2 separate regions of the Homo sapiens genome follow, and region 2 is linked to region 1. A link means that fine-mapping ties the variant in region 1 to the expression of a gene that starts in the linked region. Tissue or cell type: tibial nerve. Region 1 holds a variant in brackets; the other region holds the start of a gene. All regions are shown on one strand. Distances are between the middles of the regions.

The links. PIP is the estimated chance that this variant, and not a neighbour inherited with it, causes the effect.
Region 2: it holds the start of KCNJ4, and the variant in region 1 is fine-mapped to the expression of KCNJ4 in tibial nerve (GTEx, PIP 0.97).

The regions. Positions count from the first base shown.
Region 1 is chr22:38,405,750-38,413,850 of GRCh38, reverse strand. It overlaps LOC105373030 (a long non-coding RNA gene), which reads left to right. Exons shown (of 5, transcript XR_938254.4): 5 at 3,453-3,495. Among named protein-coding and RNA genes, the nearest start is that of TPTEP2-CSNK1E, 11 kb to the right of the region's middle. RefSeq lists a silencer at 795-994. The variant C/T (reference allele first, on the strand shown) is at 3,476.
Region 2 is chr22:38,451,567-38,459,667 of GRCh38, reverse strand. KCNJ4 (potassium inwardly rectifying channel subfamily J member 4) reads left to right here and starts at 4,469. Exons shown (of 2, transcript NM_152868.3): 1 at 4,469-4,688. It overlaps LOC124905116 (a long non-coding RNA gene), which reads left to right. Exons shown (of 2, transcript XR_007068096.1): 2 at 1,999-2,346. RefSeq lists enhancers at 6,573-7,191, 7,192-7,811.

The DNA of each region.
Region 1 (8,101 bases):
ACACTGGCCAGGCTTGAGTCCCATGCCTGTCTTGAAACCACTATTACGGCCAGAGGACCACTCTCACTGGCTAGGCCTGAGCTGTGGGCATGGAGAGGCTTCTGATCTTAATGGGGAGACTGGGGGTCCTGGCTGTGGGCCCTGGCAGCCTTTGGGGAGGGGAGGGAAGGCCAGAGGGTCTGAGAGCCCAGGAGGGGAGGGAGGAAAAAGCCATGGGTGGGGGTGTGTGCAGGAGAAGGTTCATCCGAACCCGTCTAAGCCAAGGTCTGGTCACAAGGCAGCACAGAACCCTGGAATCAGGGTCCCGCTCTGCTGGGCCAGGTAAGGCCACACCAGACCTTGGAGGCCCAGCTACCCCATCTGTCAGATGGGGGCAACAGTCATACCAACCTCACCGGCTGTTAAGAGAGTATAAAGAAGAGTAGGCATTTAGCTCAGCATCGGCAGCTGTTATTTTTATCCTCATCTCTCAAAGTTCGCCTCTCAATCCCAGGCACGCACTGACTCTGGCTCGGCACCAGACAGTTGGCAACGCCCCTTTGCAGCCGGCATCTGCAGGGAGGCACAGGTGTCCCCGTCTACAGGTGGGAGACCAGGCCGAGCAGCCCGAGGTCCCTCAGAGGTCAGAATCAGGACCTCACCCAGAGCCCCCGACTCCAAACCCGGATCCTCCCATGGCCGCAGTGTTGGCCGACTTGAATTAGGGGGGGTTGGTTGGGGGGATGGGCTTCTTCGCCTGTTTTCCCTCCTGTCACAGAAGGACCAGAGTGACCTCATTCTCCCCTCCCCCGGGAAGTGCACCCCAGACAGGGGCTGTTACTAATTATTCTCACTCCTCCGCGGGCCCCTGCGGGCCCCGGGGTCCCTGCTCCACAGCGCCGCCCGGTGGCCGCCTCCGGAGCTGCCGGCTGCTGCAGGCGGACTGGCGTGGCCCCAGCGGAGCCCCCGCACCCGGAGCCCGTCTGGTTCCCCCGGCTTCAGTTCTTGCCCCCACACCCGCCCGCAGGCTTCACTCCTTCCTGCCGCGAGCACCCGGGGGCGCCTGACTCCCCGCACGCGTGTCCCCACGCGCACCACTGCTGCTGCCAGCAGGAGTCACCACGCCCATTTCTCAGGTGTACAGGTCAAGGCTCTGGAGGCGAAGGGACTCCCAAGGTCACGTGGCCAGGACGGGGCGGAAGGACCTTGGGGCAGACAGCCAGGAGTGGGAGGCAGAATTGGAGTCCGGGTATGACTTTGTTCCCTCATTTTGTTTGGAGCACCGGAGTCTGCAAAGTGAGTTTCACAGACACGATCCAGCCCTGCGCTGCTCCCAGCGTGGCCCCCGGGCTACCCGGATCAGCCTCCGGGCTGCGCTGTCCAACACAGTAGCCCCGAGTCACACTGCGCACTTGAAATGTGGCTGGTGTAACTGAGGTGTGCTGTGAATGTAAGATACACACCGGATTTCAAAGACTTTGTAGTAAGAAAGATTGCAGGCCGGGCGTGGTGGCTCACGCCTGTAATCTCAGCACTTTGGGAGGCTGAGGTGGGCGGATCACCTGAGGTCAGGAGTTCGAGACCAGCCTGACCAACATAGTGAAACCCCGTCTCTACTAAAATACAAAAATTAGCCGGGCGCAGTGGCGGGCGCCTGTAATCTCAGCTACTTGGGAGCCTGAGGCAGGAGAATCGCTTGAACCCGGGAGGCGGAGGTTGCAGTGACCCAAGATCGCGCCATTGCACTCCAGCCTGGCAACAGAGCGAGACTGCCTCAAAAAAAAAAAAAAAAAAAGAGAAAGAAAGAAAGATTGCAAACTATCTTTAAATTATCGTTTTTTGTTTTTTGTTTTTTGTTTTAGATGAAGTCTCTCTGTAGCCCAGGCTGGAGTGCAGTGGCGCGATCTCTGCTCACTGCAACCTCGGCCTCCCAGGTTCAAGCCATTCTCCTCCCTCAGCCTCCTGAGTAGCTGGGATTACAGGCACCCACCACCACGCCTGGCTAATTTTTTGTATTTTTAGTAGAGACGAGTTTCACCATGTTGGCCAGGCTAGTCTCCAACTCCTGGCCTCAAGCGATCCTCCTGCCTTGACCTCCCGAAGTGCTGGGATTACAGGCATGAGCCTCCGTGTCTAGCCTTCTTTTTACTTTTTTTTTTTTTTTTTTTTTGAGACGGAGTTTCTCTCTTATTGCCCAGGCTGGAGTGCAATAGCGCTCACTGCAACTTCTGCCTCCCGGGTTCAAGTGATTCTCCTGCTTCAGCCTCCCGAGTAGCTGGGATTACAGGCATGCACCACCACGTCCAGCTAATTTTTGTATTTTTAGTAGAGACAGGGTTTCTCCATGTTGGTCAGGCTGGTCTCGAACTCCCGACCTCAGGTGATCTGCCTGCCTCAGCCTCCCAAAGTGCTGGGATTACAGGCGTGAGCCGAGCCACCATGCCCGGCCTTCTTTTTACTTTTTAATGTAATTGCTGGAAAATTTAAATTGATGTGATGTGGATCATTTTGTGGCTTACATATTGTAGGACAGGGCTAGACTCAATTGGCAAAAGGTGCCCACTCCTGGTCCCCACCTCACACCCCTGACATCCTGTGTGAGATGGGTCCTGGGACCTGCATTTTAATAAGCTCTCTTCAGGATTCTGCAAACTACCAAATCTCAGATTGAAGCTCCAGGAATATGTCGGGCCTGTTCACCGTTATATTTCTCAGGATCTGGCATGGGGCCCAGCACATAGTGGGGTGCTCATTAAATATTTGTCAAGTAAATTGCCTCATCTATACTCATAGTAGGTAAGTAGGGGAGAGAAGACTTTTTTTTTTTTTTTTGAGACTGGGTCTCACTCTGTCACCCAGACCAGAGTGCAGTTGTCCAATCACGGCTCACTGCAGCCTCAACCTCCCTGGGCTCAGATGATCCTCCCACCTCAGCCTCCAGAGTAGCTGGGACTGCAGGCACACACCACCACACACAGTTAATTTTTGTATTTTTTTGTAGAGACAGAGTCTTGCTATGTTGCCCAGGCTGGTCTCAAACTCCCAAGGCTCAAGCAATCCACCTGTCTCGGCCTCCCAAAGTGCTGGGATTACAGACTTGAGCCACCGTGCTTGGCCGAGAAGACATTTTAAAAAATAATAACTGGTCCCTCTCCCTCCCCCTCCCCTTCTCCCCGGTCTCCCTCTGATGCCACCAAAGTTGTGAAAGCCGAGGCTGGACTGTACTGCCGCCATCTCGGCTCACTGCAACCTCCCTGCCTGATTCTCCTGCCTCAGCCTGCAGAGTGCCTGGGATTGCAGGCACGCGCTGCCACACCTGACTGGTTTTTGCATTTTTTGGTGGAGACGGGGTTTCACCGCGTTGGCCGGGCTGGTCTCCAGCTCCTGACCGCGAGTGATCTGCCTGCCTCGGCCTCCCGAGGTGCCGGGATTGCAGACGGAGTCTCGCTCACTCAGTGCTCAATGTTGCCCAGGCTGGAGTGCAGTGGCGTGATCT[C/T]GGCTCGCTACAACCTCCACCTCCCAGCCGCCTGCCTTGGCCTCCCAAAGTGCCGAGATTGCAGCCTCTGCCCGGCCGCCACCCCGTCTGGGAAGTGAGGAGCGTCTCTGCCTGGCCGCCCATTGTGTGGGATGTGAGGAGCTCCTCTGCCCCGCTGCCCCGTCTGGGATGTGAGGAGCGCCTCTGCCCGGCCGCGACCCCGTCTGGGAACTGAGGAGTGTCTCTGCCCGACTGCCACCCCATCTGGGAGGTGAGGAGCGTCTCTGCCCGGCAGCCGCCCCGTCCGGGAGGGAGGTGGGGGGTCAGCCCCCGTCCGGCCAGCCGCCCCGTCCGGGAGGGAGGTGGGGGGCGCCTCCGCCCGGCCACTGCCCCGTTTGGGAGGTGAGGGGCGCCTCTGCCCGGCCGCCCCGTCTGGGAAGTGAGGAGCCCCTCTGCCCGGCCGCCACCGCGTCTGGGAGGTGTACCCAACAGCTCATTGAGAACGGGCCATGATGACGATGGCGGTTTTGTCGAATAGAAAAGGGGGAAATGTGGGGAAAAGAAAGAGAGATCAGATTGTTACTGTGTCTGTGTAGAAAGAAGTAGACATGGGAGACTCCATTTTGTTCTGTACTAAGAAAAATTCTTCTGCCTTGGGATGCTGTTGATCTATAACCTTACCCCCAACCCCGTGCTCTCTGAAACATGTGCTGTGTCCACTCAGGGTTAAATGGATTAAGGGCGGTGCACGATGTGCTTTGTTAAACAGATGCTTGAAGGCAGCATGCTCGTTAAGAGTCATCACCACTCCCTAATCTCAAGTACCCAGGGACACAAACACTGCGGAAGGCCAAAGGGTCCTCTGTCTAGGAAAACCAGAGACCCTTGTTCACATGTTTATCTGCTGACCTTCCCTCCACTATTGTCCTATGACCCTGCCAAATCCCCCTCTGCGAGAAACACCCAAGAATGATCAATAAATACTGAAAAAAGAAATAATAATAATAATAATAATAACTGTAGGCCAGGTGCAGTGGCTCAGGCCTGTAATCCCAGTACTTTAGGTTGAGGAGGAGGACTGCTTGAGCTCCAGAGTTTGAGAGCTATATATACACAAGGAAATTAACATATAGTATAATAATAAAATAAAATATATTTTATATACTTATTTTTAAAATCATTAAAATTTTTTATTTTAAAAATTAACATAAAAATTGTAGTTATTGTACACAACATGTTGTTTTGAATTATGTATGCACTGTGGAATGGCTAAATCAAGCTAAGTAATGTAGGTGTCACCACATACTTATTGTTTTATGGTGAGAACACTTAAAATGTACTCTCAGCAATTTTCAAGAATACAATACATTGTTATTAACTGTGGTCACCATGTACAATGGATCTCTTGTACTTATTCCTCCCATCTAACTGAAATTTTGTATCCTTTGACCAACATCTCCCAACACCCCCACTCCCTCTGCCAGCCTCAGCACAACCACCGTTCTCCTCTCTGCTTCTGTGAGTCCAACTTTTTTTTTTGAGACGGAGTTTCGCTCTTGTTACCCAGGCTGGAGTGCAATGGCGCCATCTCGGCTCACTGCAACCTCTGCCTCCCGGGTTCAAGTGATTCTCCCGCCTCAGCCTCCTGAGTAGCTGGGATTACAGGCGTGCACCACCACACCCAGCTAATTTTTTGTATTTTTGGTAGAGACAGGGTTTCTCCATGTTGGTCAGGCTGGTCTCAAACTCCTGACCTCAGGTGATCTGCCTGCCTCGGCCTCCCAAAGTGCTGGGATTACAGGTGAGAGCCACTGTGCCCGGCTGAGTTCAACTTGTTTAGATTCCATAGTTTAAGTGAAATCACGCGTACTTGTCTTTCTGTGCCTGTGTTATTGCGCTTAACATAATGTCCTCTAGGTTCGTTCACGGTGCTGACAGTGACAGGACTGTCTCTTTTTTTAGGCTGAATAGTATTCCATGGTGTATATATACCACATTTCCTTGATCCATTCATCCACCGATGGACATTTTCAGTTGTTTCCACAGCTTGGCTATTGTGAATAAAACTGCAATGAGCATGGGGTGCAGATGTCTTTTTGACATACTGATTTCATTTCCTTTGGATACACACCCAGTAGTGGGATTGCTGGATCATATGGTAGTTCTATTTTTATTTTGTTTTTGAGGAACCTCCATACTGTTTTCCATAATGGCTATACTAATTTACATTCCCACCAACCATATGCAAGGATTCCCTTTTCTTCACGTCCTCTCCAACACTTGTTATATCCAAGATGTATTTCTAAAGATCATTATCTATATAATTTCATTAAACAAAATATTTTATATGAAGGACAAATGACCTGGTTTCCCCAACTAACAAATTGCAAGGAAAATAGAAGAGATAGAGTAGGAACCTATAGATTGAATGAGATTTAAGAGACATTGAGGCCAGGCACGGTGGCTCACGTTTGTAATCCCAGCCCTTTGAAAGGCCGAGGTGAGGGCCGGGCGCAGTGGCTCACGCCTGTAATCCCAGCACTTTGGGAGGCTGAGGCAGGCAGATCACCTGAGGTCAGGAGTTTGAGACCAGCCTGACCAACACAGAGAAGCCCCGTCTCTACTAAAAAAATACAAAATTAGCTGGGTGTGGTGGCGCATGCCTGTAATCTCAGCTACTTGGGAGGCTGAGGCAGGAGAATCGCTTGAACCCGGGAGGCAGAGGTTGCGGTGAGCTGAGATCGCGCCACTGCACTCCAGCCCAGGCAACAAGAGCGAAACTCCATCTCAAAAAAAAAAAAAGATTAAAACCAAAAGATTTTTCATTGTATTAATAACAGACAAACTAGGCTTCAAGGCAAAAGTATTATTAGAAACAAAGAAGGAGTATATAACTCCAGGAAGATAAAAACAATTCTGAACTCTTATACACCTGATAACACAACCTCAAACTATATAAAGCAAATCAAGGAGAAGCTAACAAATCCATTATTCTAAACAGAGTTTTTTTTCCTTTCTTTCGATAATGCTGGTGCCAATATAATTAGAGATTTTATGACAAACATTCAGTGACTGACACATCAAAAAGATGAAAGAATCACTAAGGATATAGAAAATATAAACAGGGGCCAGGTGTGGTGACTCACGCCTGTAATCCTAACACTTTGGGAGGCTGAGGCATGCGGATCACCTGAGGTGGGGAGTTCAAGACCAGCCTGGCCAACATGGAGAAACCCTGTCTCTACTAAAAATACAAAATTAACCGGCATGGTAGTGCATGCCTATAATCCCAGCTACCTGGGAGGCTGAGGTAGGAGAATAGTTTGAACCCGGGAGGCGGAGGTTGTGGTGAGCTGAGATCATGCCATTGCACTCCAGCCTGGGCAACAAGAGCGAAACTCCATCAAAGAAAAAAAAAAAAAGAAGATATAAACAAGACAGATATTCAATATCATTAGTAATAAGGGAAATGTAAATTAAAGCCGCAGTGGGTTGGGATTTTACTCTCACTGGCTTGGCAGATATTATGAAATTGAACGGTTTCAGATTTGGCAAGGAAATGAATCAGTGAGGACTCTCATCTGCTTTGGGCGGGAGTATGAACTGGTTCAATCTCCTGCAAAAATAGTTTAGCCTTGCCTAATAAAGTTGAACATGTTGCACACACAATAATTGAGCAATTCTCATCTTACACTTATTACTTAAGGAACATATATGTGGCTAATAGTAAGAAAAAAGAGAAATACAGCTGGGCATGGTGGCTCACACCTATAATCCCAGCACTTTGAGAGGCTGAGGCGGGTGGATCACCTGAGATCAGGAGTTGGAGACCAGCCTGACCAACATGGTGAAACCCTATCTCTACTAAAAATACAAAAAATTAGCCAGGCGTGGTGGCGGGCACCTGTATTCCCAGCTACTTGGGAGGCTGAGGCAGGAGAATTGCTTGAACCCGGGAGGCGGAGGTTGCAGTGAGCTGAGATCACGCCATTGCACTCCAGTCTGGGCAACAAGAATGAAATTCTGTCTCAGAAATAAATAGAGAGAAAAGAGGAGGTGCAGGCATAGAGACATACAGGGGTATAATTCAGGTGTTAGCAGTTTTTATGGGTGATGAGTACATGGTATCTCTATTTTTTTAAAATTGTATGTCTTTTGCATGTATATCTTACAATAAAAATTATGTCTATATATTTGAATATATCATGTCTGTAGGTCAATAGTTCTGGAAGGAGACCCCAGACTGTTCACTGTGGCTCTTCCTAGAAAGTGTTATTGGGAGGCCGGACGCGGTGGCTCACGCCTGTCATCCCAGCACTTAGGAAGGCCAAGGTGGACGGATCACGAGATCAGGAGTTTGAGACCAGCCTGACCAACATGGTGAAACCCCATCTCTACTAAAAATACAAAAATTAGCCAGGGGTGGTGGCGGGTGCCTGTAATCTCAGCTACTCAGGAGGCTGAGAGAGGAGAATCGCTTGAACCCAGGAGGCGGAGTTTGCAGAGAACCGAGATCGTGCCATTGCACTCCAGCCTGGGCCACAGAACAAGACTCTGTCTCAAAAAAAAAAAAAAAAAAGTGTTATTGGGGGACAGGTGCATTCAAGGAGGAGACTTATATTTTACCCAAATATTCCTGGATGGTTT
Region 2 (8,101 bases), 46 kb before region 1:
TTACAGATGCGCACCACAGTGCCTGGCTAATTTTTGTATTTTTAGTAGAGTCGAGGTTTCACCATGTTAGCCAGGCTGGCCTCAAACACCTGACCTCAAGTGATCTGCCCGCCTCGGCCTCACAAAGTGCTGGGATTACAGGCGTGAGCCACCGCGCCCGGCCCTGGCTGAACTTTAAGACACTCTCTAGGACAAAAACCTCTGGCCTCTGTGACTCTAGCATTTTGAAGTGGCCTTTTCCGTCTCCTCCCCAGCTGTCCACCTGCCTGGCCCAAGTTGCCCTCCCTTCCACTCCTCTCAGCCCTCTACACAGGCTCTCAGGGCCCCTGTAGGACCCAGGAGGTGTGAGCAGGACCCCACAGTAAATCGGTTAGTGAGTGCTCTGCTAGCCTGGAATGACCTTTCCCCAGAAAGTGGAAGTTGAGCCTGGTTCAAATCCTGGCCCAGACAGTTGCTTACTGCCTGACCCCAGACAAGCCACTTCCCCTCTCTGTGTGTCAGTTCAGAGTCCTCACCTGTGAGGTAAAGACAGGCATAGCCCGTACCCCACGGAGATCTTGTGAGGATCAAAGGAGAGAATGGAGAATGGAGATGGCCAGGACGTTTTACCAAAGTGTATGGTGGACAGAGGTTTTACAAGCATTCTCCTCCAAACTTCAGAGCGAACCTCCTTCCTCCAGACCATTGTTCCTGGCCACACCGGCCCTGCCACTCATGGCATTACTGCCCGTGCCTCAGTTTCCCCATTGGTAACAGGTGCCTGGAGAATTCTTGCAAGAATCAAAGGAGACAATCCCTGCGAAGGTCTGGATAGTGCTGAGCTAGGGGTACGAGTGCAGGGGAAGCAGGTTGTCCTCATTCCGTCTGGTGGGGGGGCGCATCTGTGGTGGATCATGACAAAGCCCACTTACCCTTGGGAGACCTAGTCCACACTGTCCCACTACAGACGAGGCCTCTGAGGTCCAGAGAGGACACGCATCTTGCCCAGGGTCACACAGGTTCTGACACCCAAGACTTTTCTCAACTCCCTCACACTGCCCCCAGGCCTCTGCATGCCCATTTCCATCTCTGCCCCCAACCTCACACAGGGCTAGAGGCTACTCACACGGAAGGTGAACAATGTGAAGTCTTCCTTTAGTCTTTGATTATCCTCAAAACAGCTGCTCGACCACGTGCGGTGGTTCACACCTGTAATCCTAGCACTTTGGGAGGCCAAGGAAGGTGGATCGCTTGAACTCAAGAGTTTGAGACTAGCCTGGACAACATGACAAAACCCCATCTCTACAAAAAATACAAAAATTAGCCTGGCATGGTGGCACATGCCTGTGGTCCCAGCTACTCGGGAGGCTGAGGTAGGAGGATGGCTTAAGCCCAGGAGGCGGAGGTTGCAGTGAGCTGAGATTGCGCCACTGCACTCCAGCCTGGGCAACAGAGCCAGATCCTATCTAAAAACAGCAACAACAACAAACACACACACACACACACACACACACACACACACACACACACACACCCCGAAGCTCAAAGTGGGTATTATAGTTCTCATTTTACATATGAGGAAACAAAGGCCCAGAGAGGAGAGTTGAGCTGCCCAGGGTCACACAGGGCTGGAGAGGAGAGAAAGGGCTCTTTCCTGGGGCCTCCGAACCTCTCCCTGCCTGGAGCTCCTCTGCTTGCCTCTCCCTACCTCCTCCCAGTCCAGTCTCCTTGCAGGATGAACAGCAGCCCCAGGGTGCGGCCCAGGCCCGGCAAGCTAACCCTCCTTGCCCCAGAGCCCCCATCCCATCTTCAAGTTTGTGCCCAGGGACTTGGCATCAGGAGACTGATTCTGTGACAGTAGATGCTTTGGATCTACAGACATCTCTGTCTGCATTTTCCCCTCCTTCCTGCCCCTTCCTCCTCTCCCTGCACCCCACACTCCCAGGATGGCTACCAGGTCAGGCCCGTGGCCAGGCAGGTCATTTGTCTCACCCTCATCCTCCCACTTTCCATCCACAGAAAAGGTGAAAAAGACCAGGCACACATCTCTTGCCCACAGGGCACTCAGGCTGCTTGAGTCTCCCCTGCATCCACGCACTGAGCATTCATGTGATGGAACATCAGTCCTGGCTGTCTGCCTGTGAGGACACAGCAGGGTAACCAGGGAGAGGCGTGGAACAGGACGTGCGTTCTGGAGGTCTGCACAGTCGGAGAGAGCCGTGAGAAAGGATGGCCACATTTATTGAGCGCCTACCATGATCTGTGTATTTCTTGTGCATCCACCTCACTTAATCTACCCCTTGGGAATGGAGGACGTTAGGGTCCTCAATTTACAGACAGATTAAATAAAAACTTGTTCAAGGTCAAGTAGCTCCTAGGTGCTTTTGAGCCTAGGTTAGCCTGACTCCTCATCCCACTAAGCAAGAACCATACTTGTGCCCCGCCCAGGGGCTGGTATGTGGTGGGTGCCTAGTGCTGGTTGAATGAATGAGTGGGTGATAAATGACTTCTGCTGGGGTCATCAGGAGGCCTTCTCAAGGAAGTGGCACTGAGGCTGGGCTTGGGGAACAGCAGGAATTCTCTGGGCAAAAAAGGTGGAAGGATATCTTAGTGAGGAGGAACAGTGCGTGCAGGCAGAGAGGTGTGGAGGCCTGTGGCGTGTTCTGGAATCTGTGGAATCAGGGTGTACCTGTGGATTTATGGGATGTGGGATGCCGGATAAGGTGGGGCCTGACTATACCACACTGAGGAGTTGGGACTGAATCCTTTTGAGTAGGGAGAGCCCACGAGGAAGGGAAACACTTGTGGTGGTTTGTGTGTTGCTGTTCTTATGCTGACATCCTCGAGGCTCAGGAGAGCCAGAGGGGATTTCAGATTTCATCAGTTCTCCACCTGGCTTTGGGGTGCCTCGGTCTCTCCCTCTCTGTAATGGGGCTAGTCGGTGATGGCCAGACTCCCAGGGAAGTTTTGCTGGCTGTCTAACTGCAGGTGTTCTCTCGTCCTACCACCCTGGAAGGAGGAGCACTTTCCCTCCTGTCTCCTCGGAGGGCTAGAGTGACGTGGCAGGATGGTCAGGATGTAGCTGGCTAGACAGGTGCTGTGGGTGCTGGGGGTTCCCTGACACCCCAGAGTGTGGGGCCCAGGCCTGACAGCTTGGGGTAATGGAGAGCGACAGAGAATAAGAGACTAGGGTTTGGCCTGGCTTTGTCATCTCTGGGTGACCTTGGCCGAGTTTCTGACCCTCTCTGGTACCCAGTCTCGCCATCTGTAAAATGGGGCAGTGGTGACTGAGTGATCGCGAGGGTCCCTCCAATAGGGCCCCCTCAGACTCCCAGAGTGAGGTGCTTCGGGTCCTTGACCGGCGGTACTTTGGGAGAGTACGAGGACCGCTAAGGAGAGGGGCGGACTCCGTGGGACCCCAGAGGGACCAGCTCCCACCCACCCCCCTTCCCGGCTCGGAGGAACCCTCTCCACCTGCCCCCTTTTGGGGGGGGGGCACAAAACCCGGGAGCGGATCCAGGAACGGGTTCTGGGAGGAGCGCTCCTGGGGCGAGGAGGAAAACCCGGGCAGGATCCAGGGCAGGAGCGGGGCCAGCAGCCCCCCGCCCCAGCCCCTGCTCCGCGCCGCGGGCCCCGCGGGAGGGGGCTTGAGGCCGGGTTAGGCCGAGGGGCGGGCAGGGCGGGGTCCCGCGGGCAGCCGGGGCTCCCGGGCTGGGGGGCGCGCGGCCTCCGCAGTGGGGCGCGGGTCACGTGTGAGGAGGGGCGAAAGTCTCGCAAAGCGGGGCGGCGTGCCGCGAGTTGGGAGTTCTCGGCGCGCCGCGGGCGGCGGGAGCTCGGGCTCCCGGGCGAGCCGGGGACGCGGCCAAGGCGGGGGCCGGGGTCCGAGACAGAGGGGGCCGCACGGAGAGTGGGAGGGGGAGAGACAGAGAAGGACAGGGGCCGCGAGGGAGACGGACAGAGACGCGCAGGGGAGAGAGGCAGCGCGGGCAGAGGGAGGCGGGGGGAGGCCGGCGGGCGACCGCGACGGAGACGGAGACCCCGCGGGCAGAGGGCGAGCGGGGCCGCAGGAGGCAGGGAGGCCGGGAGAGGGACCGGGACGCGAGCGCGGCGGAGACCCCGGCGGCAGGAGAGAGACGCGAGAGCGGTCGGGGAGGTGGCGACAGAGCCCGGCCGGCGGGGGCGGGGAGGGCGACCCCAGGCCGGGAGGCCGAGGGGTCGCGGGGCCGGGGCCGAGCGCAGCGGGGCCGGGAGTGGAGCGCAGGGCCGGGGGCAGAGCGCGCGAGCAGGAGCGGGTGACAGCGAGGGAGCTGGGCGCAGCGGGGGACGGCGGCGGGGAGGGCGCCTGCAGCGGGGGTGGGGGGCGCGGGCGGCGGGGCGCCCCGGGCCCCCGGACCCCCGCGCTGTGAGCCCGGCCGGGCCCGACGATGCTGACGCCGAGGCGGCGCCGAGGGCGCGGCGCGGGGCAGCGCTGAAAGTTGGGCGGCCCGCGGGGAGCGGCGCGGGACGGCCGGGACGCGCGGAGACCCCAAGACCCACGCGCAGACCGAGCGGCAGCCGGGGAGGGGAGCGCGGGCCGGCCGGCCGAGTTCGCGGGCAGGGGGCGCCGGGACTCCCCTTTCCGCGCCCGGGACGCCGCCCGCCGGATCGCGCCTTGGGATGTAGCGCCCGCTCGCCGCCTCCCGGACTCTCGTCGGACCCTCCGCCCAGCGGTAAGCCGCGCTCGCCCACCCCGGGCGCTGTCCGTCAGTTTGTCCCGCCGCGTGCGTGTCTGTGTGTCCCGGGCCCGCCGCTCCGGCCCCGCCCGCTCCGCACCTGATCCGGAGCCGGGTCCCGGCTGCCCGGCGCCGCGCGCGCGGTCCCGTGACTCCCCGGGAGCGGGCGGGCTCCACGGGCGGGCTCTGTCCGTCTGTCCGTCTGGGAGCGTCGCGGTCTGGGTTGTGGCCTGGAAAGGGGGAGAGAGGTGGGTGGAAGGGGTCTTGACCTCCTGCCCCAGCCATGACCTTTCCCTGCCTCCACCCACCCCAGTTGTCATGCCGGGGAGCTTCAAGGCAGGTGACTTGTGGCAAGGTGGGGGATGCCGCCTTTCCGCCTCCCCAGCTGCATCCTCGTTGCAAATGGCCCTGTGATCTGAAGAACGAAATCTCACTTCTCATGTTTTGAGCACCTACTTGGCGCCACACGACCCCAGGGCGCAGGGGCAGGGATTGGTAGAGGAGGCACTGCACGTTCACAGTGATAGACACAGGCTGGGGAGGGAGGCAGAGGCTGCTTTTTCCTCCGTGTGTAGGGAGCACCCCAAGGCAAGAGAGGTCTCAATGAGCCTCCCGCAGGGAGAACTTCCCCTGCAACCTGCCAAATGTCCCCCCACCAGTGTCAGCCTCCCTGCCCCCTACCCACATTTCTGCCCCCAGTGTCCCTGCTTCAGGATGGACAGGATGCAGGGAGTTGGGAGGTGGCAAGCTGGGTGGGGTGGAGCGGCGGGCTAGAGGCAGGGCAGCCTGGCCAGCTGACAGAGCAGGGCCTCAAGAGCAGTAGAATGTTCAGCAGCAGGTTTGGGGGAAGTGGGGAACTCAGGGAGGGAGGCCCAGAGAAGGGTTGGAGCCGTGTGTGTGTGTGTTCTCCCCCACATCCAGTCCCATGACCTCCATGGCTTCAGGCCTTTTGGGGGCAGTTAGCAGGACTTTAGGGGCCCAAGAGCCTCACTGTGGCCCTGGCTTGGCCTGTGCTGAGGGGAGCAAAAGGTGGACCAGGGCAGCTGGGGTAAGAGATGGGTGCAGCATGGTGGGAACAGAGACTGTTGGCCACTGAACTGACCCATATCCCAACTGGAGTTGGAAGGGCTGAGCCTAGAACATTCCACTCCATTCTCACTGGGAGGAGGGACTCTTTCTGGGGTGTTCCACACTGGGCAGTGGGTCTCATATGTCCTCCATTCAGCCTCCCAGAAATTAGCTCAGGTGGCTGGGAGAGCAGCCCCCTGGGCTGGTCACTCTCCTCCCAACCGTCATCTTCCACATCTGTGGCATGGGGACGTCACTCCCTGCCCCAGTGACCTCCAAGGCGGGCCCTGGGCTCAATGAGCAGTGGGCTGTTCACAGGCTGGGGAAAGCACTGGGGAGATGGGAGTAAAGACTCACTTTACCTTAAGAGAGATGAACAGCTAGTGGGTGGAGGTGGGCGTGGGGCAGTGGGAATATGGCGGAAATAGCTGACGAAGGAGGAGTGTCCAGGATTAGAGGGGGAATCTGGGGTACAATTCCTCATGGCCCTTTGGGTTATCCTTGAAAAGAAAGCTCTTCTCTCAGAAAATCCTCTGGAGTGGCTGTGACCAGGCAGAGCTGGTTGAGTTTCTGCTGGGTGACCTTGGGTGGGTGGCTTGACCTCTCTGAACCTCAGTTTCTTCAACTGGAGAATAGGTATGATGATACTGACTTCATCAGGGTGTTGAGCAGTTTCCAGACTGTGTCAGGTCTGTGAAAGCCGCGTGCGCCAGCCTGGAGCATAGTAGGTTCGTAGACATTTGCGAAAGAGAGAATGAAGTAGCTCTGGGAGATGCTGTGAGAAGATGTCTTAGCTTAGGATAAGAAGGAAGGGGAGGAGGAACAGTGTAGGCTTACAGGGCGGGCTGGTTCTTAATGTGGATCTGGGGGAGGCGGGGGCGAGTGCTAAGGGGGGTGTGAGGAGGAGGGGGCCCCTCTGCGGGGACCACTGAGTCACGAGGACATGTAAGCGACATGACAACCGGCAACATGGTAACCAGGAAACTAGCGGCGGTGGGAAACAGAGCTGGAGCAGTGTGGGGTGGGGGTGGCGGGTAGGCCTGGCAGTGCCGGGCTCAAGGGGTCCGGGGAGAAGCCAGGCTGGCCCCTCAGAGTGAGGAGGGGAGGCCCCAGGGCCAGGCTAGCTGGGGAAGAGATGGGGGCCCTGAGGGGAGGGAGGGGAGGCACCTCGGGGCTGTAGGGCAGGGGGCTCCTCCTGCACCACCCCAGGCTCCTCTCTGCTCCTCCACATCTCCACTTTTCATGCCTCTCCCCCTAGGATGCCAAATTTGGCTCACGCAATCTGTCGTCTCTCTTCTGAGATTGGCACCGGGACGAAAGCCGAGTGCATTACATCACCACCGCCGCCGCTCCCCCTGCACGAGGAGAGCAGTAGGGGAGGGCCAGAGGGCCGGGGGCAAGTGGCCAGCCCTCAACTTTCTTTCCTGTCTTCCTGCTCACTCTTCCCATCTCAGCCCTAGATGCTCGGGGGCTTCTGGGGGCAGCGGCTAGAGGCAGGACGTGGGCTCCAGTCTTGGGGAGATCCCAGGACCAGGGCAGAAAGTCAGGTCATGTTGCCAGCCCCCTGTCTGGGTGGAGCCTGGGGGCAGGGAGGCTTGGTTCAGGACCCTGGTCTGTCAGTGCCTTGCTCTGTGACCTTGGGCAGCCCCTTGCCTCATGTGGAGTCCACATCTGTATAGAGAACGGCTGGCCACTTAAGATCTTGGCGATTCTCCTGAAAGAAGGTGCCCTTAAGTTCTGCGGCTCTCCTGGGCCCAGAGGAGGGAGCCCTGGATTTCAAATCACCCTCTGTGACCTTGAGCAATTGGCTTCAATGCCTCATGCCTCCATCTCCCCACCTGTAAAATGGGGATGACAGAATCCTCAAAGGCAACAGCTATGAAAGCAGGAGACAGGAGTAGAGATAAGGCCTCTGACTCTGAAACCATAGACACTCAGGGGCCCGTGGATCCAGCATGCTGGGCAGGGGTTGGACAGGGTAGAGTGGGAGGGTGCCTGGATTCAGACAGAAGGTTTGGAGCTTAAATCACTGGTCTGATGCCTTCGTTTTACAAAAGTGGAAACTGAGGCCTGAGGGGGAAGTAGACCCATCAGGGTCACAGTGATGGTTTGTGGGCGGAGGAAGCAGAGCCAGGGCCATTGTTTTACAAAAGTGGAAACTGAGGCCTGAGGGGGAAGTGGACCCATGAGGGTCACAGTGATGGTTTGGGGGTGGAGGAAGCAGGGCCAGGGCCTGAATCCAGGGCTTCTGGCTCCCAGCTCTATCTGGAAGCAGACAGACAGATGTCCCTGTGTAACACTGTGGCAAGCCCAGACAGGACCCAGGAGCTTTGAGGGCCCAG